Linked DNA regions of Homo sapiens: all the other regions are linked to region 1. The links come from fine-mapping of genetic effects on gene expression. A gene starts in region 1. Each other region holds a variant in brackets. All regions are shown on one strand. Distances are between the middles of the regions.

Region 1 (10,711 bases):
GTCTACCCCTTGTGGTCCAGTCATTTCACCGAGATTACACAACCAAATTCTATCTGACCACAACTATTCTTGATACCTCAGCTCTTCTTCATGATATGTCTCCTAAATTTCTTTCTCATTATTCTATTTAGCAAATTAACCACCAACACCTTATTTCTTTTATCTATTTGCTATTGAGTCACTCTATAGATGTTTTGATTAGTTGAAGCTAATTCCCTGTAATGAAAATGGGTTCCCCATCCTTATCATTGATAAATTAATAAACCACCCCCTCTCTGATATATAGCTAACTTGGAAAGTTGTTCCCCAATACAGTGGCGGAGGGCTATGTTAGTGCCTGATTTTGCATAGTGTACACTCTGATATAGTAATATCTGGATTCCAGGTTTTACCAATTTACTACCCAACTATAGCAATTCTATGCTGTTTGCTCCAGACCTAAATTAATCTCAGACTCCCTTTAGATGTCACAGCTCTCCATCACTGGTGCAGACATAATTCTGAAGAAAAGGTCATGAAGTCATCGTCATGCTTTCCATGAAGGTCTAGTTCCCGGCTCCTCACCTGGTGTGCAACATGGCACCTGAAGAAACGTCACGGCTCCTTTTTGTTTCTGGTCTCATGATGAGACCAGAGTCCAGAGAACAGAAAGGAAAGAGATTGAACTTTCTATACTATGAGAGATCAATCTATCGTTTGTTAAAGTGATCAGCATATGTATCCTACAGTTGGAAATACATCCTAGGTTATAACTTGTGTGTATTTCCACACAAAAAATTATATGGGCTTTTTTTCTTTGTACTAAATTGGAGGACATACCCATTAGAAGTGGCAATATGTTCCAATTTCTTTTCTCTTACAAATAAATAAATACATACATAAATAAACAAAATTAATGACATATGTATTTCCTAATACCAAGGGCTTTAACATGTGGAATAAACTAATACATGAAGTACAAAATATATTAGAAATAATTTAAGGAGGCAGGTGACAGATACTTAGAGACAAAACATTTGGTTATACGGTTTAATCGCAAACTACAGATTTTTAATCTAAATGGTCATTTGAGTATTCCCCAGTTCTTCTACATCATAAAGGATTTTATGGTACCTTACTGCAGAGTACTCGATATCATTTTTGAAGAAATCATACTGTATCAAGTGAGCTACAATGTAACTGCAAAATGCAGACTGCAGTGTTGCTCTGCTGTGGCTCTGTGGCTTCATGATTCATTCATTTTTCCTCTTCTCTTGAGCCATTTGAGGGCTGGTATCTCAGCTCTAAAAGTCATGCAGAGAATGGGTGGAAAGAATACAAATGCTTCACTGGAGCCCGATTCAGGCTGGGGCAGTTGTTGTCAACACGATGAGGTTGAATGAAATGCAGTGACAGTGTGGTAAGGGAAGACGTGTTCTTTAATGCTGCTGGGTCCAGGGATGCCTTACCTTAAGGGTAAAACATTAGATACTATGCTTATCAACACAGCAGCCTGTCATTGCAGTGAGTTACACCTACAGCTTAAGGTAACCAAAGCTGTTGAAAGAATATTGTGCCTGCGTGTGTGTGTGCAGGTGCCCCATATCAAATATACATTCTGTTTTCATAGACATGCACAAATGTGTAAGAAAAACATATACATGTATAAATCTGTGATTTAAAATATTGTGTCAGTATTATTTACAGATTTCTTTCTTCTTAATGTAAGGTAAGGTATGTGGGGGTGAATTTTAACTAAGAATTTATTATTAACACAACTATGATAAACTCATAGGGAATGATTACATGAATATGTGTGTATATATGTGTGTGTACATACATATATATTCATTTAATTTGAACTTTATTTTTTTAAGTACATTTGGAATTCCTTGGAAGTAATAATATAATGTATATGTAAACGCCTAAATAATACCCAGGAGGTCACGATTTGACCTAAACACTCGCATTTGCGTGGGAATTTTATTGTGCTCACTTTTTTTTTAGAGGAATGCTTTGTCCTTTACAAAATGGACAAATACTCCCACTGTACTGCAGTTCCAGTTCTATAATCATTTTGGAGGCGCTCTTTACCCCGTGGTGACCACAACACGAAGAACCGTCCTTACCCACATGCTGCTTGCCTGGGGAGCTCAGGATCAGTGTCTTACACACAGAAGGATATATGCTCCCATTTTTTTTCCGCCGACTGTAAATGACTCCTATTCTTTGCTCCACAGAACATCCGATGTGGTGCCCAATCAGCTGAAAAAGCTGCACAGACGTCATTAGTTCCGTGTGTGTGTGTGTGTGTGTGTGTGCAAGAGAGAGAGAGAAAGAGAGAGAGGAGACTGCAGCTGCCTTGCCGCGTGCCGAGTGGAGTCTCCATTAGGGCAGCGCTATTGATTTCTGATTCACACTGCAGCAACAGGGCTAGAGCTCAGAAGAAAAAAAAATCACGTCTCAGAAACAGGAATTACAAAGACAAAAATAAGTAGATAGATAGTTTTATACAAAAATCAAGCATCTGTTACCAAAGGAAAGCAAAACTGACAATTTAGCAAAATTTAAAGACTGTTTATAACATAGAATAAGATGTATAGGAGAAGTAGAGTAAAATGAGTTTAGAAAAATTATTCGTTCTAATTTTTCAACCATTTTTTTGAGAGGTGATAATGGTCTAATTTCCAGAATGCCTTGAAAAACCCTGGAATACTCGGCAGAGGTGCTGCAAAGTAAAGCTTATTTGAGGGCAATCTTGAAGCTATGCCTGAGAATTTTAAACAACAAAATATCCAAGATTTATTTTTTCAATTGTGTTCGATTATTTTATTAGCTAGTAGCTTTCTCTGTTTTAATTCTCTGTGTTGCATAATATCTAGGATACAGTAACAGGCTGGTTGCAAATGCTCGAAACAGAAATAGGTTTCTTCATAGGCTGTGTTTCAGCATGTCCAACTGTGAGCCTGTGAAGCAGAGCATCGGAGTTCTCTCGAGGTCTGTTGCTTCAGATTTGGTTAGAAATTATTGAATCTGGAGTGTAAAAATCTTGTCTGGGCCTTTTAGGCAGCTTGATTTTAAAACTAGCCCTTCTGCCCCAAGACTTATCAACCGCCCCCCCACCCTGTCCCAAAAGAAAAGCTGAAGTAAGTTCAGTGTTAAAATAATGGTGCTGTCAGGCAGGCAGTCTGCATGTGAGCAGCAGAAAATTAGAAGAATAGAACCATCCATTCTCGTTTCCCCCCGCGACATGCACGCACACATACGTGCACACACACACACACACCACACACACACACACAGACAACACCAGTCAGTGAAGGGGGAAAAGGGTGATACCTTTTTAAAAAATGAAAGGCAGTAAGCCATTATTAGCAAGAGCTATATTGAGCATGCTTGCCAGACAAGCAGCAAAGCTGAGCTCCAGTTCCGCCCAGACATGTGCCTTGCCATTTTCATTTTAATCAGCCTGCTCAGGATGGCTGCTGATTCATTTTGCAGGATGTCCCCCTGGGAGCCAAGGTGGAAGCCTGAGGCGAGCTGCTATTGCATCAATGCAGCACATCAGAGCGAGAGCGCGGAGGCAGAGGGAGGAGAGAAAGCCTTCAGCACCGCATCCCGATTTCAATATGGCTAGTTAGAAGGTCCTGCATGAAACCGAGTCTATTGCAGAAAACATAATGAAAGGAAAGGAAAAGAAAAAAGTCACATTGTCATTTCATTATCCAACTATTCTCTCCCCCAACCCCTTCTTGCCACCAACAGACACACACACGTACACATTTTACAGTGACCATGAAAGATTTCAAGCCACTCTGTGGAAGTGTGTGTGTGTGTGTGTGTGTGTGTGTGTGTGTGTACTATTTACCTGGTAACTAGCTGGGGTGGTATACCTGATTTAGCTGGAGACTTTGATTTGTAGGACTGACAACCTTATTATGCAGTGAGTTTATTATTGATATTATTCTGCTCTCGGTTGCCATGGCCACCTTGTGAGAGACATTCAATTTTCTCTCTTCCATCATCATTATCTATGAGGCCATCTGTTGTGGAAAATGAATTCAGCCTCATTTGCATGACTGATAAGCAATTTTTTTTTTTATCTATTTAACAGAAGGTCATATGCCGGGGATTTGGAGCTTGTGAAAAAAAAATGTGGAAAAAAAAAAAAGCCTAGGAGAGGATGAGTGGGAGCGTGTGCATGGGGGTGTGTGGAAGTCAAACAGATCCCTGAGGCCTGCGAGCCTATCGCGCTGCATTTGTCATTCCTGCCCGGGCGACATTTTTTTTTTCCCTAAGCTACTGCACACTAAACAGTGAGAGAGCTTTTCCCTGCAGTCTTGTTGAAGCACCCCGGGTTTTTTGCTCATTGTTGGTGGGTGCATTTTAATTTTTTCATTCCCTGGACTATGGGTTATGATATCCATACTCACTGAAGACAAAAAGCCACCTTTTCTGCGTCTTGGTGGCATGCATGTGTCTCATCATCCTTTCAAACTTGTGGTGGAACAGGGTTTTCTTCCCTGTCTGTGTATTTTGAGCCAGCACAGTTACCAAAATTGAACTTGTCTTTCGCTTGTGAGCGGTTGTGGTCATTGTGAGGTACGTGATGTTCGTTAGGTTAATTTTTCGGGGAACTTAGTGAGCAGGATGTGTTTTACCGTAGCTCAAGGGCTGAGGCTGCTATTCCATTGTCTGCTCCTTTTTAAAGTTATTTTTACAGCATGGCTGGTAGCTGAAATGTTCCTGGACTGGAGGCTTTGTAATCCACAAAAAAATCTGTCTTTAAACTAAAATGGGTATTAGGTTGCATGACTTAACTGTGATGTTGTTTATTAAGAAAAAAAGAAACAAAAACAAAACGGGGTGCATGTATGGTGTTTGGAGGATAAGAGGATACTGAAACAAAAACTTCCCAGAGACTTTACTGGATTACTTTACATTACAAATGAAGCACATCATTTTATGCAAAGGCAATTAAAATGTTAGCTATTTTGGATGAATTTACCTGATGGTAAGAAGAAAGTTGATTTATATTGTTTAAGTGGAGAAACTCAAATAAAGATTTTTAAATTTAACTTAAATGTTTGAAGTTCATAATAATGAAAGAAAATGTTATTTATAACAGAAATATGTCTTTTTGTAACACCTAAATTAATAAACTAAAAGATTAAACTCTACACTTTAGTTTTAAGATAGATCTGAATAAAGCAAAAATATATATGTAAATATTTATATGAAAGTTAGCTATATAAAATATAGAGAACAGATTTTGAATTTAGTATTAACCATGACAATTTCTTGTACCATCAAAGCTATATAAGCTAAATAATTTCTAAGTTACTTAGAGTAAAACTATTTTATATAAGAGCCTTTTTGTTCAAATGTTTATATTTTCTACTAAACAAAATTAACGTCATAGACCAAAGCATCCCAAAACCACCCTTACTGGCATATGAGGGTCTTTCTAATTGTTCATCTTCATTTAGTGTCATGTAGCTTTAAAAATAATAAAGTCATGTCTCCCATACAGATAAAAATGTAATTATTTTTAAAAGAAAAGAGTTTTATAAAATATTCCTTTTCAAAAAAAAAAACAGCATTGCATTCCTATAAGTTTTCACCTCTCAAGAACTTTGAATCCAAAGTGTTGATTGTAAGTTATAAATGCTACTAAGAGAAACATTCCAGAAAAAAAGGAAGTTTGTTTTTTCTGATTGACCTAAAAGAACATGTATGATTCTATCACCTCAAATGCAGTAAGTTAATTGCTTAAAAGTCTCCTTAAAGTTATACTTGAGTGATAAATTTTCTTTATTAACTAACATAGACCACTACTGATGTGTGTGTGTGATGGTACTTTACTTGATTGCACTTTGAAAACTCTTACCATACTATCATACACTTTTCATAAACAATAACAGTTGTTATATAATCCTTCTGCTTTTAATCAGCCATATTTCTTTATATTTTAGCTTGATTTTCAGAGAAATAAGTTTATTTTAAATATTAATTGTGCATTTAAAGAATTTAAAACAATAAAATTCTGATAGATTATGAAGATTATTTAAAGTGACATCAGCTTTCTCAGAGGACTATAAGAATCAGTAATATGAGATCTGGATCTATATTATAATATGAAGGATTATGTTGTTGTCTTTTGATCTGTACATATAGTCTTCAGATTCGTGAATCAAAATTATCAACATCTAAAAAAACCTATGAGATAGCACAGTTGATTTTTCTCTCCTCCCCACCCCCACCCACAAAAAGTTAATTACCAATCTTGGTTGGATTCTTCCTTGCCTCCCTGACATTTGACTGCTGCTAATTCACTGATTAATCTCATTAATGTGATTATAGTAGGATTTAGAGTTGGCTGCCATTGTTCTGTAGACAGTGCTATTCAGGCTGAGCACTTGCCACCTCATTCAGTTTTGCTGTGATTTTTCAAAGGCTGGTGGAGTGAGCTATTGTGAGCAGGCTTCTCTGCCTTCCCTTTCAGCACCAGGAGCTGTCCGCAGCTGATAGCGATTGCATTCAACAGTGACTGACTTCCTCCTAGTTTATTGGCAATGTGAAAATGGCTCACTTTCATCACCTTAATGATTGTGCTAGTTGAGGTAGAAGTAGGAGAAGCCTTCATGGTCACATTTGGATGTTTTGAAGATGGTGGCAGCAAAGATATCTATACTTGAACATTTTTATTTAGTAAAGACTTTCCATCTGCCATTATACACATATTTTACTCTATTTCCAAATATTCAAACATATCAATATGTTAAAAATTACTTGTATATATGTATAGTTGTGGGTTGGAAAATTGTAAACATTATTACTTTTCAACTGGAAAATTTTATCCAAATACATGTAATTATTAATAAAATTCATCTTTGAAAAGATGCACCAGGACTATCTGGTGTCACAGTAAGGTAGAAAGTATGCATGACACACAAATTTCAACTTCTCTTGAGTTAAACTTGCATCCAACAGCAGAACTTATGCCAATTTCACAAATTTGTGTTAGAAGCTGAGATCAAGGTAAAGGCCCAATGATTTGTGACCACATATGAGTGGTGTACAAAAATTATTAAAGGAATATGAGTACCTAGTCTTCTTCGGGGTTATAAAAGCTGTCAAAGCATGACCTTAGGACTATGTGGATAGTTTCAGAGAATGAGACTTCTTTAATATGCTGTTTTCACTGTCCCTGTTATGTTTTTCACCTAATTTATTTATTTATTTTTTACTCTCTTGAAAATGTTTCTATTTTGTACCTTACTCTTGAATATACCCAATTATTTCACTGTCTGATGTTTTCTGTCTGCTTTCTGTGTCAATGTTTAATAGATTAGGGAAAAGAAATAAGTGATTATGCAATTTCAAAGATTTGTAAAGTTTTTCTATTTGTTACAATTATACTTAAAATTAAAAAATTGAGTTAATAATCTGATTATTTGTTCAGCTGCTTTTATAAATACTTTACATTTATAATTTTTAAAAGCCAATTACTTCTCTGTGAAAAATTAATTTTGTCAAGTAAATAATGTTTTCAAAGTCACATGCATAAACTAGATTTCCAACTCTACCTGTAAGCCAATTTAATTTGAGGGAGAGACATTATTTTAGAAATACATAATATACAATCTGAAAGACTTTGTTTACTTGTTATATATTTTAGTGGATACATTTTAACTTCAAACAACTTAAAGGTTTATTTACCCTTAAATATTTTATATTAAAAAAAACTCCTCTGTGGAATTAGAGGGACTAGTCAGATGCTCTTTGATAATGACCACTCTGCTTTGCACTTACAGTTTGGTTTGGCTGGGTGTCCCTTTTAGACCAGGGCTATAATTTTCAATCAATAACCAGTGTTTCCAATGCATGTTGTCCTTTGCCAGGAAGTCTACCTTGATGCAAAGTCTCACCAGAACTCTGTTCAGGAGGCAAATGAATGGTAGACTCAGAAAGAGAGATCTACAGTTTTGGTAAATTTTTATAATCTAATTACTCCATAGCGTAATTTGAGCGCAATGATGTTATGCATTTTCCTATTTCAAGTTTTTAAGAGTTCTTTTTTTGAATATCTTCTTTTTTATTTGAAAAGTTGTGTAGTATTCTTTAGAAAGGAGTAACTGAGGATAAACTTGAACAAAAACTTGCAAATAACATATTTTTCACCAAGCTAAGTTTCATCATACTGTATTCTGTACCACAACACAACACCTGACATTGATCTGCATTTCTTCCAAACAAAACTGAAGACAAAAGATACCACAAACTTGAAGAAGTAAATAGATGTAGGTTTGTGTTTGTGTGTGTGTGGTTGGGGGCAGTGTCATATCTACATATCATGGTTGCTGGTATGAAAAAGATATTTTAAATTGACATACCACCCCAATATTTAAAATATTGCCTATAGTGACCATAACTCATATGAAATAATACAAATATTCTACTTTTATAGTATTTTATTGCATGATTTTTTCTGATATTAGATTATTTAAAGGCAACAGCTATCCATTTTTTCCATCAGTGGGCTATTTCAATGCAATGTGGTTCTGTTTGTAATATCTTTGTGTCTTGTCTCTTCTCTCTCTTTCTCTCCACTTTCCTTTCTCTCTCTTCTGCCCCCTCTCTCTTTAACTTGGTCCCTGTTTGTCTGTTTTGCCACCCTCTCTTCTCTCTGTGTTTCTTTCACACCTGCATTGTTCAAGCATACACAGTGATTTTTCTATGCATGTTTCTACAATGGAAGTGTTTTTGGCTTTGACATCATAATGAGTCCTCAGGGTATCTGTAGAAGTAATCAGAGATGGCAGAGAAAATGTAAGCCAGGTGTTATAAAACTAGAAAGAATGCATGAATGCTTATTTATTAGATAGAGAAAGAGTGATAAGCATTGCTGTATTAGGCTGTTCTGCTAGGAAAATTTTCCTACCATGTACCTCTTTTAAAATAATCTCTGCTCCCCACGTGGTGATTATTGGAAAAGTTGGCGGGGGGGAATATTTTAGTCTTACTGTAAGGAGTATTGTGTTGTGAGAAGATGGAATGGTACAGGACATTCTCTTAAAGCTTTCCTTGCTTTCAGACTGCAGTGGTGTCTAGCAGGGCTCGATGGGAAGGGAATTGCAGCCTCTATAGTAACCAGTAAGTCTGGTCCCAACACATCAGGGAAGAGCTCGGTCTTCAGAGGAATTACCTCTGAGAGCTGGAAGAGGGTGTTCCTGGTAACTTGGGGCTTCTCTGTCAGTCTCCCCACGGAAACCACAGTCAGAGCTGTGCTCTGTGGAAAGCCTGCAGTGGCTGCTCCCTCGTGCTGTTCTGCTCTCGACTCTCACTCACTGTGGATAGTGGGCTGGTGGAGTGCGGGCGCCAGAGGGTAGGGGTGAATGGAATGGAAACACAGAGGGAACTGTGACCAGCACGTGCGATGGTCTCTCCACGGCAGACAGAGCCCTGCGTGGGTGAGAAGCAGACTGCGGAACAGGATTTGGCTTGATGGCCACCAGCTCTTCCACAAAAAGGTACCTCTTTCCTTTTATTGTAAAGGTTACATAGGATTTCTTTTTTTCTTAATTTGCCTGGTGGTTGCAGCTCCCAGTTCTTCTCTTAAGTACTTCAAAAATAGTTGTTTCTCCACCTGCCTGCCTATCTCCAGCTCTCATTTGATTGCATACACAACACTTCCTAAAGTCTCTTGGTTAGGCGTGTGAACGCGCCAACAATGGACCCTCTCTCAAAAGAGCTTCTCCTTCAGTGTAATGCCATTGTGGGCACTGCTATGTCTGCATGCTGCCCGGAGTTGTTGTTAAACATGAGTCTGTGTATTCAAGGCTAGTTTCCTGGGGCGAGGGTGGGAGGTGCTAAAGTAGCCTTTATGATTTAACGTAGCCTTTCATAGCGGTGAGTGTTATAGGAGAGAGGTTTGCAGAGAGTGAAACGGTATGGTCACCACCAGAGTAAAACATCTGTGGCTTGACTCAAGAAGCCATTTATAAAATCAGCACTTTTTTAAGCCAGAAAAAAATGCTAATGAACATCAGGTATCTATGTTCCCTTAGCTATTTTAAAAACCATATTAGGACTTGTCTTTTCAAAGAAAACTTTTTCTATATTTTTTTCTTCAAACAATAATAAAAGGTGAAAAATGTTTTAACTTTCTTAGACAAGTAGTTTCATAGCTTTTGTTTTAAAAGAAAACGATGCAAGAAGCTCATACTGAAACAGAATAATATAGTGAGGTTGGCAACCCGAAAACGATTTTAAGAATTGGTTAGAGTTAACTCTTGTGTCACCATTCTTTTATTTTAAGAAGTGACAGGTTTTGGAACCTCTTTTTGTTTTGCTTGGATGTTAACCAGCAATGCCATCTAAAATACTGTAGGTTCAGCTTACTTCTGTGAGGTTTCTTTGGCCACAGCATGAATTTACCATAACATCAATGATACGAGAGATATTTTTAGATATATTGCCTAGCTGGTAGCTGCTAACAGCCTGACTCCGGTATTTACAGTTCTCATCTATTACATTAAATACAGCACTGCTCATGATACACATTCTGCTCTAGAGATTTAGGGGCCTGTGGGTACAAGGCAAGCAGCATACTGCACACATCTCCACTCGTGTCTGACTGTGTTGCAAGCTTGATACACAGGAAGGTTAGAAATTACTGGTTTAATCCACAGCTGTAGCTTGAAAAATATCTAGATCAGCAGTGAAGTTC
Region 2 (10,711 bases), 150 kb after region 1:
GCCGTCCTGAGAACCCTGCTTCTCCCCGTGCGGTCCTGAGAACGAGCTTCTCCCCGTGCGGTCCTGAGAATGCGCTTCTCACCGTGAGGTCCTGAGAACGCTGCTTCTCACCAGGTTCAGTTACAAGGGCTCTTCATAGGCTTAATAGTCTGAAGCCCTCGCAGAGATTTTGTTCATGAAAGTTATAGCTACCACATTAACAATTAAAACTAAGATATTTTAAAACATTATTTGCTTTTTAGTTATTAAAAATATTTTTAAAACCCAGTACCTGTTAATATAAGTGATTATATATTTATGAAAAATAATATTTTCCATAAAAAAGACATTTATTGAAAGAGCGTCATTGTTTCACATTTAGCAAATGTCTTTCATGCGTGTCTTAATAGAGCAGCTGAATTCTCATCTGCCTCTGCACTTAACATATTGCATAAGTTGTTTTGGCTGAAGCATTTGAAGATAATCCAACCCCACAGATGATGTAGTTGCATGAGGGAAGACCCCCGAAAGGCCATGAAAGGGTGGAGGGCACCCCCACAGGCTCACGAACCCCATTTTGGGAACTGCTCCAGGAGAACATTGTGAGCAACACAGGAGTCAGGAGGGATGAGGAGGAGCCGCCTCTTACGCTGCGGTGGCGGCATGGCCAGGAGTTCAGGTTTTGGAAGCCCCAAACGCAATCAGAAGCTCTTATATAGTATGATGCAATTTCATTTTTAGAACGATGGTCCTGCTGCTGTGTGGAGAATGCACTGGAGGGGAAGCAATGGATTGGAGAGGCTGGTTAGGAGGCTATGTTCTTGGCTACGCTGGGGAGGAAGGCGGCAGCAGCTCAAATTAATTTCCTCTCCCTGTAGTCTCGCAGAGTAAACACGCTCACTTGAAGCATGTGTGAGAGGAGAAGCTTCCCAGGTCTTCAGCAACCATCTATCCTAGGGAAATCAGACTGTGGCAGGACAAAGCTTTTGTATTTTAATTTTGCCTTGGAAGTGGATTTCAAAACTCACATCACTCAAAACTCTGACCCACCTGCATTTGGCCAGCTTGTCAGCAAGATGACAGCTTCTTCTCTCTGATTTTCTTAAACTCCTACCACTTCCCATAAGCAATAAGCTTGGAAAACATGAGCATCTGCCCGAGACAGATCCCCAGGAAGTCTAAAGCCTGGGCAAAAAAGGGAGAGGAAGGGAATACACAGAACATTGGATTTCCTATTAGGGCTGCACCCTGGCTTTCATTATGCCGTCTGTCTGACTCTTAATAGACCTAGCCCAGGCACACAGATCAGGACTTATTTTCTAGGCCATTTTAAATAGATTAGGAAATGTAAAGGTCCCTTAAATGACATAATTTGGCATTAAGCACTGCACACGCTTGTGCACGGCTCCTATCGGCGTGAGCGTGTGCCTGCTGGTAAGTTCGTGCATCCATCAAAGCTCAGCTTGGGGGATTGGCAGTGTGTGTTCCCCCAGCTTGAAAGGAGATGCACCTCTTAATTCCACATCCAGGTGCATAGCACCCCACCAAATAGCAGAATCGTTTTTAGAATTCTAAACAAAACAGTTCCGAATTCATGTTGTTTTGGGTTTGTCAATATTACCATTAACTTTCGGTAATACTGAGTAATATGCCTTTTTGTGTTAGGTTCATACACAAATATAGGTGTTTTGCCATGGGAAGGAAGTGTATGTGTGTGTGCATGCATTTGTGTGTGTAATTTTTAGTAGTAAATGAACCATTTATTTTTACTGTAGAGGCTTTATTCAAAGATGTTAGAGCTTGCCATTAAGTGTTATTATGCCAATCTCTAAAAAATATTTTGCACTGAACATTTGTTATTTTAAGGTAGACAGAGGCAAATATGCATATATATTTAATATAAGAGAATATAAATGATAAATGCATACATGTTTATTATATATATGGAGAGAGAGGGATAATCTGAGAACTTTTTTTCAGAATGTTCTTAAATTGCTTAAAAAGAATTGGGGATAAGAACAAAGAATGTACTCATAGGTGTATTGAGACTTGTGGGAGCCTTTGGGAAATGCTGTGAGCAGAGAATAACAGCTTCAAGAACTTATCCAGTAAGATATATTGGCCAACTAAACAGCCCAGGCTGAAGTAGGTATACCTGTGTTGAATTCAGCCATGAATGCAATGGGCCTCTGGAAACGTATTTTTAGCCAGCGTTTAGGTACCAGGTCCCTCCCTCCCTTCTAAAATTATTTTTTAATTCCCTGGAGTGTGCCCCCTTCTGCCACTCATCTGCTTGTTTGGTGCCTGTTCCTTTCCACGGGGGCGAGGCTGGCTTCCTCCCTCTGCCGCTCATCAATACTGAGCTGATTTGGAACTAAGCTGGGTAATAACATGCCTTTCAGCAGCCAGCCCCGCACGCGCCGTGTAATTAAGGCCTGATGGTTGTGTTGACGGCGAATGAAAGAAAATGGCTTTGTTCTCCTTCCCCGGGCTTGATTGTGGGTTCTCGCTCTCACCTGAATTCGACCCACTCTGCATTGTGCCCGTGATTGCTGGAGTGCCAGTAATTGCTGTCCTGGCAGATGACATTTCCATGAAGCACTTTCTGTGCAGCTCCAGAGGGAACGGACAGAGCTGATGGCTGGGGGAAGCTCATCAAAGGCAGATTTAGGAAAGGCCTCGGTGGAAGAGGGAGCCCACGACCAAATATAAGAGCATCTCCTCTGACATTTGCTTGTCTGTCACTCACTGTGCCTGCAACCTGCTTACCCTAGGCCTGCAATCCATAAAGACTGGATTGTGTGAGGATGAATTGCTGTTTAAGTTCATTAAGGCCAAGTTTCGATCATACCTTTTTTAGAAAAAAATTCTTTATTTTGTTTTCCAAAAGGAGGATCAGAGCAAATAGAAATAAATGAAAGGAACTTATCTTCAGAAGATGATATTGCACACAGATCTTTTTAAATCAGTGCCAATAAAGACCAAGGTGAAGATTAGGTTACATTATAAATTGATCTTAACCTTGCTACAGACACTCATGTTAATTTATAATGCAAAGTTTACAATATTTTCGAATTGGAATTTAAGAGTTTATTCGTTGTAGAATTTTATAACAATCTGTTAATTATAGATTTTTGATTCTGCGATGCTTATGCAAAAATTGGGTCAAGAGTTAGTAAGTGTAGGCATCCAGAAAAACCCAAGGATCCTTATTTACTAGAGGGAGTGGCGGGACATGGGATGGTTGACGGGTCTGCAGAACGTGACTTCTTGGGGAGACATGGAGACTTTACAAATGCCTCTCGCAGAAGCTGCTTCCCTCCAATGGTAGTGATGGGGGCAAAGCTAAAAACGTAATTCCAGGATGGGTGCATGAGATTCTCCCTATTATCTGTTCATCGAGGTCCATATTTCTTTTGCGGTGAGCACGCTATCTTGGCTTCAAAAAACGAAAAACATTAACAGTGCGGGACTACAGTTAACCAGTAAGGACCGCAGGACTCGGGAAGGCCCGGCTGCGTCCCCCTCACATAATGACCGCGGAACTCGGGGAGGCCCGGCTACGTCCCCCTCACGAAAGGAACGCGGGACTCGGGAAGGCCCGGAAGGCCTGGCTGCGTCCCCCTCACGTAAGGAACGCGGGACTCGGGAAGGCCCGGAAGGCCTGGCTGCGTCCCCCTCACGTAAGGAACGCGGGCGTCTGGGAGGCCCGGCTGCGTCCCCCTCACGGAAGGAACGCGGGACTCCGGAAGGCCCGGAAGGCCTGGCTGCGTCCCCCTCACGGAAGGAACGCGGGCGTCTGGGAGGCCCGGCTGCGTCCGCCTCACGGAAGGAACGCGGGACTCGGGAAGGCCCGGAAGGCCTGGCTGCGTCCCCCTCAAGGAAGGAACGCGGACGTCTGGGAGGCCCGGCTGCGTCCGCCTCACAGAAGGAACGCGGGACTTGGGAAGGCCCGGAAGGCCCGGCTGCGTCCCCCTCACGTAAGGAACGCGGGCGTCTGGGAGGCCCGGCTGCGTCCCCCTCACAGAAGGAACGCGGGACTCGGGAAGGCCCGGAAGGCCCGGAAGGCCCGGCTGCGTCCCCCTCACGTAAGGAACGCGGGCGTCTGGGAGGCCCGGCTGCGTCCGCCTCACGTAAGGAACGCGGGACTCGGGAAGGCCCGGAAGGCCCGGCTGCGTCCCCCTCACGTAAGGAACGCGGGCGTCTGGGAGGCCCGGCTGCGTCCGCCTCACAGAAGGAACGCGGGACTCGGGAAGGCCCGGAAGGCCTGGCTGCGTCCCCCTCACGGAAGGAACGCGGGACTCGAGGAGGCCCGGCTGCGTCCGCCTCACAGAAGGAACGCGGGACTCGGGAAGGCCCGGAAGGCCTGGCTGCGTCCCCCTCACAGAAGGAACGCGGGACTCGAGGAGGCCCGGCTGCGTCCCCCTCACGTGTGGAGGCCAATCAGGTGAATATATTAGTTTGCACGCCACACAATTTGTGGTGAGTTACTCATATTTGAACAGAGCTATTAAAATACAAGGAAGTAACAAAAACCACACAGTACTGAATGACTAGTTACATTTTAATTAAATAGCACAAATATGTTATATAAGCTTTGTGTGTTGAAAGTGCCCTCATTCCCATTTACCTTCAATGTGTTTGCTATTATTATTATTTTTAAGTCTAGGCCTTTTATAAGGAGGCTTGTATATAAGAGTGGAATGCTTATTAGGTGCAGAACAGAGAGTTATTGGATGGATATGGAAGAGTTGCTGGCTGGTGACTGGAAGGTTTGCAGCATGAGGGCATTTTCTAAATGCAGGAGCTGTGCTGTCTCAGTGGATCCTCTGACAAGCCTTCTAAAGTAGACGCAATTACTATTTGCATTTCAGAGATGACAAAAGTAAAGGCCAGAGAGGTGGCGAAGCTTACCCGAAGCAATGCAACTACTCATGGGGTGGAGCTTTGCACAGTTGCCAGCTAAAGTGCCGAGCTGCGGCCTCTCTTGGCGGGTCCCTTTCTGGGTAGCTGGAAACCTCAAGCCAACCCCAACCACCGATTTAGGCAGGAGTCTCTCCTACAACTGAAGCTGACGG[A/G]TGAGGAGAGGCTTATATCATCACAGGAAGAGAACAGAGCTTTCCTCCCACAGCTGGGGAAATCTGCCGGCTCTGCTGGAGAGGCCGCCAGCCCATTGGTGGGCGTGCGGTGCGGGGAGGCTTAGGCGGGAAGAGGAGGTCTTGCTCAGATGAGTGTTATTCCTTTGTTTGGACAGAGGAGGTTGGGCAAATTGGAGTGTAGGATATTTTTGCCTGGAGATTTTTACTTGATGAAATCATCCCATGAAAAAAATCCCCAATTTTTAAAAGCATGCTACTTTGACACATTAAACTCATCATTTTAACATTGATAGAAAGTATTTAAAATGGGCCTTTGCCTGAAAATAAACGTCAGTGGATTGGAAGCACTGAGGGCCTTCGTCCGTTCTGTCCCAACCTTTATGGGCGCTGCACATTTTCACTGTGGAATCTACAGGGACGAACTCTGTCTTGTGTTTACTTTCTACTTGTTTCTCTTGAACACACACATGCATTAACACTGTAATGTATTTATTACTTTGTATGTCATTAATAAGAATATATTTAGATAATATTGAAACAGTATGATTTATTAGTGATTCCTTCTAGGTAGATATCAGCTGTGTTTTTTAGACGTTTAAAATTGTGAACAGCCTCAGCATGACCTACATTATTCAAGCCATCTACCTCCTTCCCTTCTTTTCTTTCCCTCCCTCCCTCTCTCTGTTTCTCTCTCCCCTTTTTTCTTTCTTTCTTTTTCTTTTTCTCTCTTTCTGTCTTTCTTTCTCTCTTTCTCTTTCTCCCTCCCCCTTTCTCTCTCTCTTTCTTTCTCTTCTTCCCTCCCTCCCTTTCTTCCTTCCTTCCTTTTTTCTTCCTTCCTCTCTCTCCTTCCTTCCTTCCTTTTTTCTTCCTTTGTCTCTCTCCTTCCTTCCTTCCTTTTTCCTTCCCTCCTCTCCTTCCTTCCTTCCTTTTTTCTTCCTTTGTCTCTCTCCTTCCTTCCTTTTTTCTTCCCTCCTCTCCTTCCTTCCTTCCTCTCCCTCCTTCCCTCCCTCCCTTCCTTCCTTCTTTTAGTTATATCTCCAAAGTATTTTTTCTAGTATATAGTTTGCAAGAAACTACATGTGGGATTCTGAATTGTCATATGCTGATAACTTTTACAGAGAGCTGCAACTATGAAGAATATGTGCTAAAATATGGATCTCTACCTCATCACACTGAGAACCTCATCATTACCTTACAGGGCCATCAAGTACAGCATGATTTCAAACATTCATAATATTACTCTCTTGCAAGCTTTGTGCACTGGAAGGATGTTTCTTTTATACTGCTTCTAGAGTCATGGAAACAAAGCAAGCTTTAGGAAACAGGATGGCTTGGTTCCAGGCTCCTTCTCTCTTCCTACCGCCTGGCCCCACCCTTTCTCTCCTCCCCTCCCGTGGGAACTTATTCTCCCTGCACAGAGGTGAGCAGCCTCTCTGTGACCAGGCTTCACCCCAGCAGCTCTCTCGTGGTCTACTTCCCCCAGGTTCGTTCCTCTCTGTCTCTTCCCCTCCTCTCTGTTCTAAAACAGCAACCTGGCTCTTCACTACTCTAGGGGAGGCCAGGAGGTTCGCTGGGTCCTGAGGGATACAATTCAGGCTCCCCCAGGACTTACCATCCAAACACACCCTTCCCTCCAACTGCTCCATGCTTTTTGTGTTACTGTTTTCTGTCCAGGAGATCTCCCTCTGTGACTCACCATCCATAGCCTGATGACATGACCTTCTCAAAGCTCAGCTGCTGCTCCTCGGAAAACCTCCCCACCTCTGTGGCAGAGTCCGCTCACCTCTGCGTAACCCTGAGCACTGTGGGCATCCCTGTTGCAGCCTTCCTTACTTAGAGGAGAAGCGATGACCTCCCTCCTTCTCTCCCCTGCAACTCTGTCCTGCCTGGAGGCCCAGGCTGTGCGAGTCTTTATCTACTGTGATGTTTATCCATCTCAGTCCCTGCCATTGTGGGCCGCGCTGGGACTGCACTGCTCTTTGGTGGTGTTTGGTAGGAAGCCAGCAATTCCCAAACCACTGCTCCTTCCCCAAAACCCAAAGGGAGACATCCACAACAAACAGTGGCCAAATGAAAAAGAGAGCATGCCTTTCTGGTTAGCTGCAAAGCGCATGCTGTGCTTTGAAAAACCGACGCAATGCCTGCTTCTAAGCCTCCAGCCCTCCCTAAATCCTCCATCCAAATCCAGGCAATTGCTACTGTCTGGCTTTCTTCCTTGTGAAATACAGACTGAAAATGAGAGAGAAAGAGTGTGGGGGGTACATGGGTGTGAGAGAGGGACAGAGAATGAGGATAGATGCTGGCCATACTATTGCAAACATCTTCCTTGTTCCATGAAAAATTAATATCTTTTTAATCAATAGTGACTCAAAATATCAGCTAGCCCAGAATCATTTGCACTTATAAAGGTAAATTCTTTTAAAAAAGTGTTCAAGTAACTGGATTTCCAATGGAAGGGTTTCAGCGATTGGCATGGGTACTGTTCTAACAATCTGGAGGACAGGCCCTTCCTAAGCCACTGAAATCAGATCCTGCAGAGAGGAGGTCACCTCTCCATGGCCACAGTTCCAAGACACAGTGCGGTCAGAGTGGGGCGTGCTGTCCGTGGCCACAGTTCCAAGACACAGTGCGGTCAGAGTGGGGCGTGCTGTCCGTGGCCATGGTTCCAAGACACAGTGTAGTCAGAGTGGGGCATGCCATTCATTTTTGCTCTGAAAGCTTGTTACATATGGGAGTTGGGAGGTGACTGCCAGGGTGGACACTTGTCAATGTCCAGCCTGGAAACCTGGGTCCCCATCCCAGCTCTGTGACCTCAGGCAAGCTACCTTTCTGAACCTCAGTTTCTCTCTGAAAATAGAGCTAATAATATCTCGGTTGCCTATTCTCAGGGTTGTTCTGAGGATCAAATGAAATAATGAGCATGGAAGTGCTGGAACGTGGAAAGTCCTTTTTCTCTCACTTGGAAGCAGTTAGTTGGAGGATGTATTTATGCAGATGAATCTCACTTCTCGGCATGCACCCTCCTGTGGTTGCTGTGTGAAGGAAAAGGCTGCAGGTTTAGAGAGCAGGGGAGCACCCCCAGTCCTTGGCACTGCATCCGGGAAGACAAAGCGCTTCCACGTGGTCAACTCTGTCACAGATGAAGGGCCTTAAGTACACTCATGCCCCTACCATTAGGATTTTCTAGTTGAAATGTGTGGCTGTGCTTTAAGTTAAACTCATAGCACATTTAAATCACACTCTGCATCCACAGCCTCTGACAGACGGTAATTTCTATATATTTTAAGAGCGGGGCTTACTGCTAGAATTCTGATTTTCTTCCCAAGGACTCTCTGAAAATTGAGGAGAGTTCAGCTAGCAATCAGTAACATGATTTCATTCATGAAGTTTCTGTGTGTCAGAGACAACAGAGAGCCAGGTAGACTCTCATGTTTTCAGTCTCACTTCACAGACACATAGGTACACACACAGGTGCACGCACACGGGTACACACAGGTACAGATACATGTGCACACACAGATATACACAGGTACACACACAGGCACAAACACAGGTACACGGCACACATAGATCATAGGTACAGATACATGTGCACACACAGGTACATACTCAGGCACAGACACAGGTACACAGGCACACAGGTACAGATACATGTTCACACACAGGTACACAGGTACATACACAAGCACACACACAGGTACGGTTACAGGTGCACACACAGGCACATGCAGGTACAGATACAGGTGCACACACAGGTACATACACAAGCACACACAGGTACACACACAGGTACGGTTACAGGTGCACACACAGGCACATGCAGGTACAGATACAGGTGCACACACAGGTACATACACAAGCACAGAGGTACACACACAGGTACGGATACAGGTGCACACACAGGCATACACAGGTACAGATATAGGTGCACACACAGGTACACACAGGTATGGATACAGGTGCACACACAGGCACACACAGGTACAAATACAGGTACAGGTACATGCACAAGCACACACACAGGCACACATGCAGGCACACAGGTACAGATACAGGTGCACATACAGGTACATACAAAAACACACAGGTGCACACACAGGCATACACAGGTACAGATACAGGTGCACACACAGCTACACACAGGTACATAAGCACACACACAGGTACACACATAGGCGCACACACAGGTACACACACGGGCCCACACAGGTACAGATACAGGTGCACACACAGGTACACACACAGGTTCGCATACACCTTCAGGCACAGTTTCCACACACCCACATCGAGTTGTCTCTCTGCCACTTGCACTCACTCCTAAGGTAGCACCACTGATTCAAATGATCACTTGCTCTCTCGTCTTCTTTCCTGATACAGGTTGTTGTTTTTTTTTTTTTTAAGAGCTTATGTTTTTCCATTTGATTAGTAATTATTTGAGAGTACATATTATGTGCTAAGGACTATGCTAAACAAATGAAGAATTCACCAAGTAATAAACATCTTCTGTACTCTCAAGGAGCCATGAGTTCCTTGGGGGGCTTGGAAGGAGGGTGAAGTGAACTCTATTATCATTATTGTTATTCAATTCATTCATTTAATGGATTCTCTCTCCTCTGGCCCCTGGTAATACAAAAATGAACAGGTGCAATCCCCATCTTCAAGCACCCTAGTTTCTTTGATAACAACAGTGGCATTAGCAGAAGTGGGCAAACAGTGGAATCACTGGCTGGCTGTGTGAAACAGTGTGTGAAGGTATGAACGGATCAGCGAGAGGATGACCTCATTGATCATTCAGAGGAACAGCCTCCTCCTGAGGGCCAGAATGATCTAAAAGTCTTTGAGTAGAGAAATGATGGGATTTGATGTGAAGGCTGGTAAATCTTTGAGATGTGCATAAAGAGAGGCATGGTGTGAACCAAAGTGAGGAAGTATAGTTTATATTTGAGGAACATGGAGAGGACAAAGCAGCTTAAACTAAAGGTCACATAAGGTGGTGGTAAGTCTTAGGAATTGAGAAATAACATGTCACCAAGCTTCGGGAGACCTAGGAACCAGGCTACAGTGCGTGCTTTTAGTTCCAGCTCCGATTCCTACTGTTCCTCACTCACTAAAGCAATGCTTGTGGAACTTGGGATTCCTCATCTGTAAAACAGGCATAATTCTACCTCCTTTACGTGTTTGTGTGTGAAATAACTTTTAACTTTAAATTGGAATACACGTGTAAGGTGTTGTCATGATAACGATAATAATACAAATCATGGTCACTATGTGGACTTATTCTTGGTCAGAGGCATCCACAACAGAGGCATGTTCTTAGAGATTCCACTCTCAGCGTGAAGGGAGGAGGAACAGGTTTCGGGGTCTGGTAGGGAGGGTGAAGTGAACTCATCTAAGCTAACTCAGAACTCAGTATCTGAGCCTAGGGGCTTCCCAGGAAAGAAAGGAAGGCAGGGCTATGCCTGAGTCCTCTGACTGGGATTTATCTGGGCATTTGCCTCTTGGGAAGCTTTGGATTCAATGAGATGCAGAACCACTGGGTTCTCCAAAATTCAGAAGGCACCTGCAAGCCTTGAAAGCTCTGTGGATGGATGAGCCACTTCCTTGGCCATGTCCTACAGCTGCTGGCCAGGGAT
Region 3 (10,711 bases), 520 kb after region 1:
CAGGCGCCCGCTACCACGCCCGGCTAATTTTTTGTATTTCTAGTACAGACGGGGTTTCACCGTGTTAGCCAGGATGGTCTCGATCTCCTGACCGCGTGATCCGCCCGCCTCGGCCTCCCAAAGTGCTGGGATTACAGGCGTGAGCCACCGCGCCCGGCCGGAAGCTAATTTTTCTACAGAAAAGGGGTGGGATGGTTTCTGGATGAAACCGTTCCACCTGGGATCACCAGGATTAACTTCTAAGGAGCCCGCAGCCCGGACCCCCTCGCAGGCGCAGTTCTCAGTAGCGTTTGCGCTCCTGGGAGAATCGAATCCCGCCGCTGACGTGTCGGGAGGCGGAGCTCAGGTGAGAATGCTCGCCCGCCCACTGCCCACCTCCACCTGTACGGCCCGGTTCCTCACAGGCCACGGCCGGGAGTTTGGGGACCCCTGCTCTAGGAAATATTCCAGCATCGGCAGCTGCTCTCAGAGAAGCTGCTGGAAGCTCTCCTGGGGGAGTGGGGGCAATCACAGCTGTGCCCCTGGGGCCATTTCTCAGCTGTGGGATGGAACGGATGGGACCCAGGCTGAGGCCCAGGGGCCTCGCTGAGGGAGAAAGAAGCACAGACCTGGACTGAAGTGATGAAGAGAAGGGAGGGGGTTCAGGCGCAAACAGCAGAGGCTGCTCGCTGGGAGGACGGCAAGGAGGAGGAGGCGTGCCTTTGTGGCCCTCCCTCTCTCCCCCCCACCTGCAGCTCCTGGCCCCTCAATGCCATTCGCAAACACAGGGAAAGTCGAAAGGGCTGCGGAGGTTCAGACGGCGGAAGGCCAGAGAGGTTCAGCGGGGGAAAGATGGGAGCTGCTCCCTGCATTTGTGAGGATCATACTGAGCCGGGCTGGGCCACACGCACCGTGGACCGACCAGGCGTCACCCTTGTCCTACAGTCACAGTCTTAGGACCTCTGCAGGAGGCCCTCACCCCAGCCCTCCTCTCATCTTAACCCAGGGCGGCAGCTGCATTCAAGAGTCTTTTTTTTTTTTTTTTTTTTTGAGACGGAGTCCTGCTCTGTCACCCAGGCTGGAGTGCAGCAGTGCGATCTCGGCTCACTGCAACCTCTGCCTCCCGGGTTCAAGAGATTCTCCTGCCTCAGCCTCCCAAGTAGCTGGGATTATAGGCACCTGCCACCACGCCCAGCTAATTTTTGTATTTTTAGTAGAGACAGGGTTTCACCATGTTGGCCAGGCTGGTCTGGAACTCCTGACCTCATGATCTGTCCGCCTCGGCCTCACAAAGTGCTAGGATTACAGGCATGAACCACCGCGCCCGGCTAAGAGTCTTCTCTTAACTTGGAAGTCCTGCAAAATCCTGCCGCAGGCCTCTTTGAGGGCTCAGTCTGCACCTTCCAGAGCCTGGGTGCACTCACACTCACCCTGGGCCTCCACTCACTGAGCCATCACAAAGTGCATTCAGACATTTTATGCTTTCAGAAGTCGTCACTGGGCACCTATTCCATCTCCAGCACTCTCCCATCATGGGGATACAGAGCAGTGAACAAAAAAGTGCATTTTAATCCTTGCCCTCAAGAATACACATTCTTTTCATTAAACTTCACAAACACAGTCAATTCAATATTTTATTCTCATTTCATAAGTGAGCAAACAGGACTGCCTAAGTCTTTCCTAGCCAGTTCCACGTCTTATGTGCGTTAGAGCATCAGGGGGTGCGGTGTGAGGTCCAGTGGGCCTCCTGGTCTCACAAAGGACTTGCCAGATGTAGTCACCTGACTGCAGAGTCTACCTGGATGCGGGGGCCAAAGCGCAGACACACCTGCAGGAAGATGTGTGTGACAGCCACAGTGTGTCCAGTGGCAGGAAGGGGAAAAGTGGCGTTAACATCCAAGCATCCTATTTTAGGAGAGCCTTAACAGATCTTTTGAGAACTTCTTATTTTACAAATGAAAATATCCAGCTCGCCTTCAGAAGCAGATTTACGGATAAGCTAGGGAAGCAGAAGTGTCAGCCCCCACCCCAGCCGGATTTGCAGGGCGTCCTGCTGGGATCTGATGGGGAGGCAGGAGAAGACCCAGGAGGGTGCCCCGGAGTGGGGACGACTGCCAGGTTGTTGCCCAGGCCCCATCAGGGAGGACTGAAGAGGAGCCTGTTCCCTCCGGAACGCGAGGGGTTCGTTCACGCCCCACACTAAAGACAGCTTGAGTAGCACAGGGATTTCCGGTGTAAACAGCAGCAGGCAGGGTGAGAGGATCCATCAGAAGCAGCAGTGCCAATGTCTAGTAACAAATAAATGAACAAAAAAACAGCAAAGGGAACCACGAGCCAGGACCCCCTCAGGGACTGTCCGGATTCCTGGGGATGCAGTCAGGGCAAGCAGGAGAAGCCAGGGCGCCCACCGTGCCCACCCTGTCAGGCCACCCAGTTCCCAGAGGCCTCTCTGCTCCTGGGGCTTCCCGTGCGGCTTGCCCTGGGATGGGATAGGACGCGGGAGCTGATGATGCTGGAGCTGATGACGCCAGAGCTGATGACGCCAGAGCTGATGATGCTGGAGCTGATGACGCTGGGGTTAAAGTCCCCGCTGCTCCTTCTCCCACTGAACCTAGGAACATCATCAGCAAACACAGCAGTTCACAGCCACAGAGTTGTGGTATGAGCAACAAATACTGGTGATTGTCTTAGACGTTCCAGGGCTGCAAAAACAAATACCATACCTTGGGCAGCATAGAAACCAGAAATTTATTCCTCCAAGTTCTGGAGACTGGAAGTCCGAGACCGAGGCACCAGCAGATTCGGCATCTGGCAACTGCTGCTCTCTGGTTGGTGGACGACGCCTTCTCACTCTGTCCTCACATGGGAGAAGGGGTTAAGGAGCTGTCTGGGTCCCTGTTATAAGGGCACGGATCCCATCACGAGGCCTCCTCACTTCCCATACGCCCCTTCTCCTAACACCATCCCGGTGGGGGTCAGGATTTCAGTGCACGAGTTTTCAGGGGACACAGTCAGGCAACAGCAATGATTATTTAGAATTTTATGAATATTCTATTATAATTATGAGATGCAAACATCACATCAAAAAAATAACAACTTAGACCTGTGGTGTGGATGAAGAATACTGGAAATATTTTTATACAAAGATAGGATTTCCCCAAAAACAACCACTAATATCCCCAGTTGAAAATGTATTACGATCAAGTTCTTCTGCTATGAATTTTCCTGTTTTCTTAAATTTTAAAAGAAAATGTATTACAAAAATAATATTTAGAAAGCTTAATTATATTAATGCAGATATTAGAGATATTTCTAATAATGATGTAATCTGCCTGCACTAGTAAAGAGTGTTTCTAGATATATCACTAACACATCATCACACCACTTACGGACACGGTCCATCTAACACTTCATATACAGGTGAAATACAATATTATGTATAGAGAGAATAAACACATATGTCATATACATATATAAAACATTATAGGCGGGGTGCGGTGGCTCATGCCTGTAATCCTAGCACTTTGGGAGGCCAAGGCGGGCAGATCACCTGAGGTCAGGAGTTGAAGACCAGCCTGGCCAATATGGTGAAACCCTGTCTCTACTAAAAATACAAAAATTAGCCAGGTGTGGTGGCACACACCTGTAATCCCAGAGGCTATAATTCTGTAATCGGGAGGCTGAGGCGGGAGAATCACTGGAACCCAGGAGGCAGAGGCTGCAGTGAGCCGACATCGGGCCACTGCACTCCAGCCTGGGTGACAGAGCAAGACCCTCTCAAAAAAAAAAAAAAAAAGCGTTATATATAGAAGTTTTTCACCTCACCCATAGTTAAGTGCCAGATGGCCCCTGGCCTTTAGCACAGTGAGGACTCCAGTTGACCAGCACGTCCAGGAGCCCCTGGAAGGGAGGGAAGGCCCCTCGGAGACTGAGGAGTTGTGAGGAAGCCGAGGCACGGGACTGCATGGAAGAGGCGCTCCGCACACAGGACACGCCATCTTCAGCAAACACCCAACAGGACAGAAAAGGAGGCAGAGGTGCCTTCCTGCCCCGGAGGCTGCCAGCCACATCTGCCACATACACTGTGAAGAGCTGAGACGCATCCTGACGTCGACAAACCAGTGGCTGAGAAAAGTGAAGAGACACCTGGAAAGTTTGAAAACAGACTGAATAGCTGCTGATACTAGAAAACTGGCTAAAAATTGTAAGTGAGATAAGGAGATTGCAGTTATGTTTTCACCTTTGAGACTGGGGAAGCAGGAGGGGCACAGGTGACTAGCCTTGAGAGATAACAGCTGAATTTGGGGTGAGTTCATTATTCTGCTGTCTCTACTTTTGTATATTTGAAATTAACTTTTAAACCCAACCTTTCTATGAGCTTGATGCTTTCCATAATAAAGATTTTTAAGCAATATTATCACTCTACAAAAGTTCCAAAAAGCTCTGAAAGTTATACAATGAAGGGCAGATTTCCTCTGCTCTCAGAGCCCCAGCTCCCAAGACCCCCCGCCAAGAGGCAGCCCCAGCCGAGCACCCATGATCAGTGCTCACCACATGCATGAGTGCACACACATGCACCCCATGTGTGCATAACTGTCATACTGTATGCATTGGTCTTTTTGCTTTTTCTCATTTTCAGA[C/A]AGCCTTTTGCTGGCAACCAACCTAATAATGCTATTCTACGCCTTGCTTACCACCACTTCCCTGCAGGGCTGGGACATTAGACAGTTGACTAATGGCCGTCCTGTGTCTTGTCCACAGCTTGTCAGGATGCCCGAGAGCCACGTCAGCGATGAAGAAGGCAAAGCTTTCTGGAGAGCAGATGCTGACCATCAAACAGCGGGCCAGCAACGGTGAGCACCCCTCCAGCCCTCGTGGCACCCATGGTCAGGAAGGCCCAGCGGGCACGGCCATGCCAGCTGTGTGTCCTTTGACAGTTACAGCTCACTTTTCTTAGAAAGCAGGGGCAGAGATAATTCTGGCCCTCTCATCTATAAAGCGAAGCAACTTGAGAAAAAGCAGTCTTTCTCAAAACCGTCTCCCACCTTCACCGATTTCACTGCTCACCGGAATCATGAGCCCAAGTCCTGAGGGTCTCTCCAGCACTGGACGATTTACTCCCTGGAACCCCAGTGTGCCCACATTTCTGCCTGTGTCCCTCAGGCCCTCATCCAGGGTTTCTCCACCCAGGAGCAGCTTTGGGGCCACCCCAGGCCACAGATAACAAGGATGGCACCCCCTCCCCTGTCGCCCTCACTCTCTGCATGTCTGGTGCCTGATTTTCTTGATTCCACCTGCAAATCTGTTTTGTTCTGAGGGTCTCTCTTGTCACCAACCAGCACAGGTGTGTAGAGAGTTCTGCAGAGGAAAACTGGGGGCCTCTGGAGGAGCAGGAGAGAGGAGAGCCACTTAAGCCCTTAGAAACATCCACAGTCCACCCTCATGATCTGGGGACTCTATTTGCGAGGTCACCTCCCTGCCGAAATTAATTTGTAGACGCAGGCAATGATCTCAGTGCTTTTGTAGTTAGTCCTGTGCACTCGCAGAGCAGCTGAAGTGTCTGGTGTTCCTAAGGGCAGGGGGCTGTGATGTGCCTCACAGAGAAAACACACGCTAGCCAAGCTCCCTTCAGACAGGAGTCATGGTTGTGACTGTTGGCTGGGAGTTTCTATGTTAAGGAATCCACAGTATCTATTAAATAGGTTGTCTTTAAATGGGAGCACACATAAAACAGGTGTATTCGTGCATTCTCACACTGCTATGAAGAAATACCCGAGACTGGGTAATTTATAAAGGAAAGAGGATTAATCAACTCACAGCTCCACATGGCTGGGGAGGTCTCAGGAAACCTACAATCATGGTGCAAAGGGAAGCAAATGTGTCCTTCTTCACATGGCGGCAGGAGAGAGAAGTGCAGAGCAAAGTGGGAAAAGCCCTAATAAAACCTCCAGATCTCATGAGAACTCAGTATCAGGAACAGCATGGAGGTAACCACCCCCATGATTCAATTACCTCCCACCAGGTCCCTCCCACGACACGTGGAGGTTATGGGAACTATAATTCAAGATGAGATTTGGGTGGGGACACAGCCAAACCATATTAACAGGGTTTTTTATTGATCGATTGACAAAAATGGGACCAGAGGGTGGCAGGAGCTTGGCCCTTTGTTTCCAAAAGCAGTGATTCTGCTCTCAGCCTGTGTGCAGTAACTTTATAGCACATGGCTCCTGGGAATAATGAGATCAGCTGTAACCTGTAGCCATTGAGCAGACTGGTCCCCTTCACAGCAGAAGCCCAGCCTCCCCTTCTCAGCTTTCACTTGCAAGATGCACCCCTAATTTTGTATTTCTAAATGGAGCCTGCAAACCTCTTCAAGCACCACAAAGCACGGATGCCCTGGGCTGAAGGCTCCCAGACCTATGATGCACAGATCCACCCTACAAAGCTGAACCTGGGCAGAACCTGGCACCCTCCTGCTGTACCTTTACCAAAGGGCACCTCCTCCCCAAATCCACCAAGAGTGAGCCACACCTGAGCAGCTCCCAAGCATGCAGGCATGAAGCCCCTGGCCACAGCCACGGGGGTCTCCTCTCATCTGACTGTTATTGGTGGTCCTGAGGACAGCATGAGAGACGCCTGAACGTCCCACGTGTGTGTACCTGCAGGACTCCCTCTGCCAGCAGCCAGTACAAACTATTCCTCAACATGTGGCCCATTGTTCACCAGAAAGGTCATCAGCTTCTTGACATTGGTCCTCAAGGTCTGGGGCTCCTGGAGGCATCCTGTCCCCCAGGCTGCTCCTGTCTCCCAGGCTGCTCCTGTCAGTTTCTGCCTTCCAGAATACCCTGACCCACCCTCACAACCTCTCCCTGTGGATGCAGTCCCAAGCAGCCAGTGTAAGGACCCCGCTTTTGAGACACCAGGATAGCCAACTTTCGCTTTCTAGTTATTACGGAGCAGTGCTCCTTGCCAGAAAGAAAACATTCCCTAAGCCCCATCTGCATGCCGGGCGCTTTTCAAAATACTTAGAGGGCATTTCACCCCCGAATAACCCTGGATTAAAGTGGAAATCCTTAGACAATTGATCCGAGTCCACGTGCCTTTGTTCCCCATTAATGAAGGAAGTGGCGGTTAGGTTAGGTAGGCCAGTTCAAAACAGAAAAGGAAAGAAAATACGGAGAGAACAGATCTGCCAATCCTAGAGGAGGGGCCATTCACACCTGGGCTGGTCCACCTGGGCGGCGGTGGGCAGATCCCTGAGGTGGCCATCTCTTCATCGGTGGGCCTGAGTCGGCATTGAGGGCACTAGACATTCCTATTACTGCTGCACACAAGGAGTTAATTCACAAAAACAGGTGCTAACTCGGAGGGATAAAGATAAGCAGTTGGTCTGTGACTCTAAACTAGAGGAACCAACAACTGGGTGTCATCCCACCAGAAAGCAGCCGGGACACGGGCATTCCAGGGCCACCGTCCGCCCGCTGGGCCCAGCTGCTGCTGCTGGGCAGCCTTCAGCCAGGTCGCTGCATTTCACCCAAGTTTCTAGACACACAGTTCGTGTTGTGCTAAGTTTTAGGACAAACAGTTCCCCTTGCTGCAGATCCTAATGCACGCACGTCCATGGGTAAAAAAGAGGAGCTGCAGGTCACTGGGAGAACAGGTGGTGGAAGTGGGTCTTCCTAAGTCCAAGTGTGTGCTGATGCCTGGGGCTGTCGATTCCTGACACTGTTTGCACCAAACTGAGATAGTTCTTTCTTACCCCCAGAGCACAGTTGTGTGCCCAGGCATCATTTCCATGTCTGTGTAGCTAATCCAGGAAGGGTCCAGGGACCTTTCCTGCTGCTCATCAGGGGACAGAGGCACAGCATCCAATTCCTGCGGCTCTTCAGGGGACAGAGGCACAGCATCCAATTCCTGATGCTCTTCAGGGGACAGAGGCACAGCATCCAATTCCTGATGCTGTGGTACCATTCTTTGCATCTGAAGCTCTGTGTTCCTGTTGCCCTTGCTGTAGATGTGGAAAAGACAATCCCTCTCTTTTTTTGGACTGGGTCTCGCTCTGTCACCCAGGCTGGAGAGCAGTAGCACCATCTTGGCTTACTGCAACCTCCGCCTCCCAGGGTCAAGCGATCCTCCCACCTCAGCCTCCTGTGTAGCTGGGACTACAGATGTGCACTATCACACTCAGCTAATTTTTGTATTTTTGGTAGAGATGGGGCTTCGCCATGTTGCCCAGGCTGCTCTCAAACTCCTGAGCTCAAGCAATCCACCTCCCTCGGCCTCCCAAAGTGCTGGGATTACAGGTGTAAGCCACTATGCCTGGCCTTAAATATTTTACTATAGATGAGGTCTGACTATGTTGCCCCCTGTGTTGCTCTTGAACTCCTGAGCTCAAGCGATCTGCCCACCTCAGCCTCCCAAAGTGCTGGGATTATAGGCGTGAGCCACCATGCCCGGCCTTCTTTTCTTTCATATCCTGAGTGTAAAGCCTTTCCTGGGGTCATTTTTATACCTTCAGTGTAACAAGAGTGCGCAGCAGCTTCCCTCCATGTGAGGCCCAGACACTGTGTGGGACAGAGAAGCCACCGGAATCCACTGTGAGGCACTGACTCGGCCAAGAAGGACCCTGGCACTGGATTTTAGCGCTTTCTCTTGAGCATTTGTCTGAAAGGGAAGCAGCTATTCTAAATGTCCTTGAGGTTCCCTTCTGGCTCTAAAGTATTTTTCTTTCTTTCTTTTTTAAGTTTAGGGATGAGCCTGCTCTCATGTCTCTGCCCAACAAGGATCACCTTATTTTCTTTATCCGTGGAGTGATCTCATCACGCATTAGTACTCAGCTCTGCCTGAGCAGCCGGCGTGGCTGTTAGTGAGTCTCCCTTCAGAACCCTTTTGCAGAAGTTCACTGTATGCCTCTTAGCACCTTGGCACCTTGGCTGAAGTTGTACCATCAGTGGCTTTTTGGCGGGTAGTGGGGGCAGGGGCAGTGTTTAGGAGAGAAGGAAATAAGATAATGCTTTTTCTTTCCTTTTACTATCACAGCAGAAAGCAAGCTAGGGAAAGGAGCTCTAACCTCCATCAAGCCCTGAAAACATGAAGCGCTTTGTCAGGAACTTCACCTACTTATTTCGCTTAATATTCCTGAGAGCTCCAAACTGTGGGAACTCACGTTTCTATTCAGCTGTAAGGAAAAGGAAATTCCAGGAGGCATGGAAATTCCACCAAGCCATTAGTGAGAGTGACCAGCGCTGGCTGGGTTCACCATGGGACACTGGTCTCTCAAGAGCTACCAGGATCCTGAAGTAAATCAAAATCTTCCAGGACCACGCTATGCTAATTTGAGTAGGATTTGTTTGCTTCTTTGCTTTGGTGTCCAGTGGGTGGATTTTCTGGCTCTGAGATGCTGCTTTTTGGCTGGGCCCTCCCTGCTCAGGCCAGTTTTTTATAAAGGCAGTTTCTCCTGACAGCTTGCAGGCCAACTGGTGGAATGTATTATAAAACCCTAGTTGTGGCTGGGCGCGGTGGCTCACGCCTGTAATCCCAGCAGTTTGGGAGGCTGAGGTGGGCAGATCACCTGAGGTCAGGAGTTCAAGACCAGCCTGGCCAACATGGTGAAACCCCATCTCTACTAAAAATACCAAAAATTAGCCGGGTGTAGTGGCAGGCACGTATAATCCCAGCTACTCAGGAGGCTGAGACAGGAGAATCGTTTGAATCCGAGAGGTGGAGGTTGCAGTGAGCCAAGGTCACGCCATTGCACTCCAGCCTGGGCAACAAGAGCAAACTCCATCTCAAAACAAACAAACAACAACAACAAAAAAACCCTAGTTCCAGCCTAACCATCCACAAAGTGAGGCTCAGCTCAGAGGCCCCAGCAACCCCAGGGACTGCTTCCTGGGCCAGTCACTGCCCTGCTGCAGGGATAAGGAGAATTCCCACCCAACCCAGAGCTCTCCTCTCCCTGAGGGGGCTTCACGCCGAGGCGCACGTGCCTGGGGGCTCGCAGGATGTCCCAGGAATGTGGCTGTGGACAGCTCTACAGAATCAGTTTGCAGGCCCTCCTCTTCCACATACCCTCGTCCTACAGAATCTCATGGGCCGGGAATGCTCTGTGACCTGCCGGTTCTTCCTGGCACCGTTTCCCTGTCTCCCTCCTCCCCCTTACAAAGGAATGGCATGCTGCACAGAGCCGCAGTGGGCAGCCCCAGGACTGAGACGTTCCCAGGCTCCCACAAAGGGCTGTTGGTGACCACTTGGGCCTGAGGGTGGTCCCCCAGGACAGAGCAGAGCTATGGAAGTAATATCCACCCATCCATCACTCCCAGAACAAAATTAGAGATGAAAGGTTGTCATGGGACCCGTATCAAGACTTTTATTTGGATTTAAAATGACACTGACTTCTGTCAGAACAGTTGACCTGATCTGGCAGATCAATTAGATAACAAAGCCTGATAGGCCAGTTAGTTTGACATTTATCATGAATTCTTCAAACTAAGCATCCCAGTCCAAGGTTTTTGAAAGGCCTCTGCGAGATGGGATTCCTAGGAATGTGCTTGAGAAATTTGCCTGTGACAGCTGTAGAGGGTCGAAGCTTCACCACGTCCAGTGTTCTGAGGGCCTCCTTCACATGGAGGTGTTCTAAAGGCATTTGGATGCTTGCAGTTTAACAGAAGCTTGTGGGGAATGCTTCTGAAATGATACGTTCGTTCATAATTTAGTTGCTTTATGAATTGGGATT

Which allele goes with the higher level. Positions count from the first base shown, and alleles are read on the strand shown. Sizes are in standard deviations (SD) of each study's normalised expression.
For the expression in testis of the gene that starts at base 4,273 in region 1, A is the high allele of the variant in region 2 and G is the other (large effect, 0.79 SD a copy in GTEx).
For the expression in aorta of the gene that starts at base 4,273 in region 1, allele C in region 3 goes with a lower level than allele A (moderate effect, 0.55 SD a copy in GTEx).

What was found. PIP is the estimated chance that this variant, and not a neighbour inherited with it, causes the effect.
Region 2: its variant is fine-mapped to the expression of MYT1L in testis (GTEx, PIP above 0.99).
Region 3: its variant is fine-mapped to the expression of MYT1L in aorta (GTEx, PIP above 0.99). The same link has a PIP of 0.9 or more in coronary artery and tibial artery.

What each region holds. Positions count from the first base shown.
Region 1 is chr2:2,324,837-2,335,547 of GRCh38, reverse strand. MYT1L (myelin transcription factor 1 like) reads left to right here and starts at 4,273. Exons shown (of 25, transcript NM_001303052.2): 1 at 4,273-4,581. It overlaps MYT1L-AS1 (MYT1L antisense RNA 1), which reads right to left. Exons shown (of 2, transcript NR_024468.1): 2 at 8,440-10,711.
Region 2 is chr2:2,179,128-2,189,838 of GRCh38, reverse strand. All of the region lies in intron 2 of MYT1L (myelin transcription factor 1 like), which reads left to right. Among named protein-coding and RNA genes, the nearest start is that of MYT1L-AS1, 130 kb to the left of the region's middle. The variant A/G (reference allele first, on the strand shown) is at 5,058.
Region 3 is chr2:1,803,194-1,813,904 of GRCh38, reverse strand. MYT1L (myelin transcription factor 1 like) reads left to right here. Exons shown (of 25, transcript NM_001303052.2): 22 at 4,738-4,829. Among named protein-coding and RNA genes, the nearest start is that of PXDN, 64 kb to the right of the region's middle. RefSeq lists an enhancer at 9,300-9,932. The variant C/A (reference allele first, on the strand shown) is at 4,620.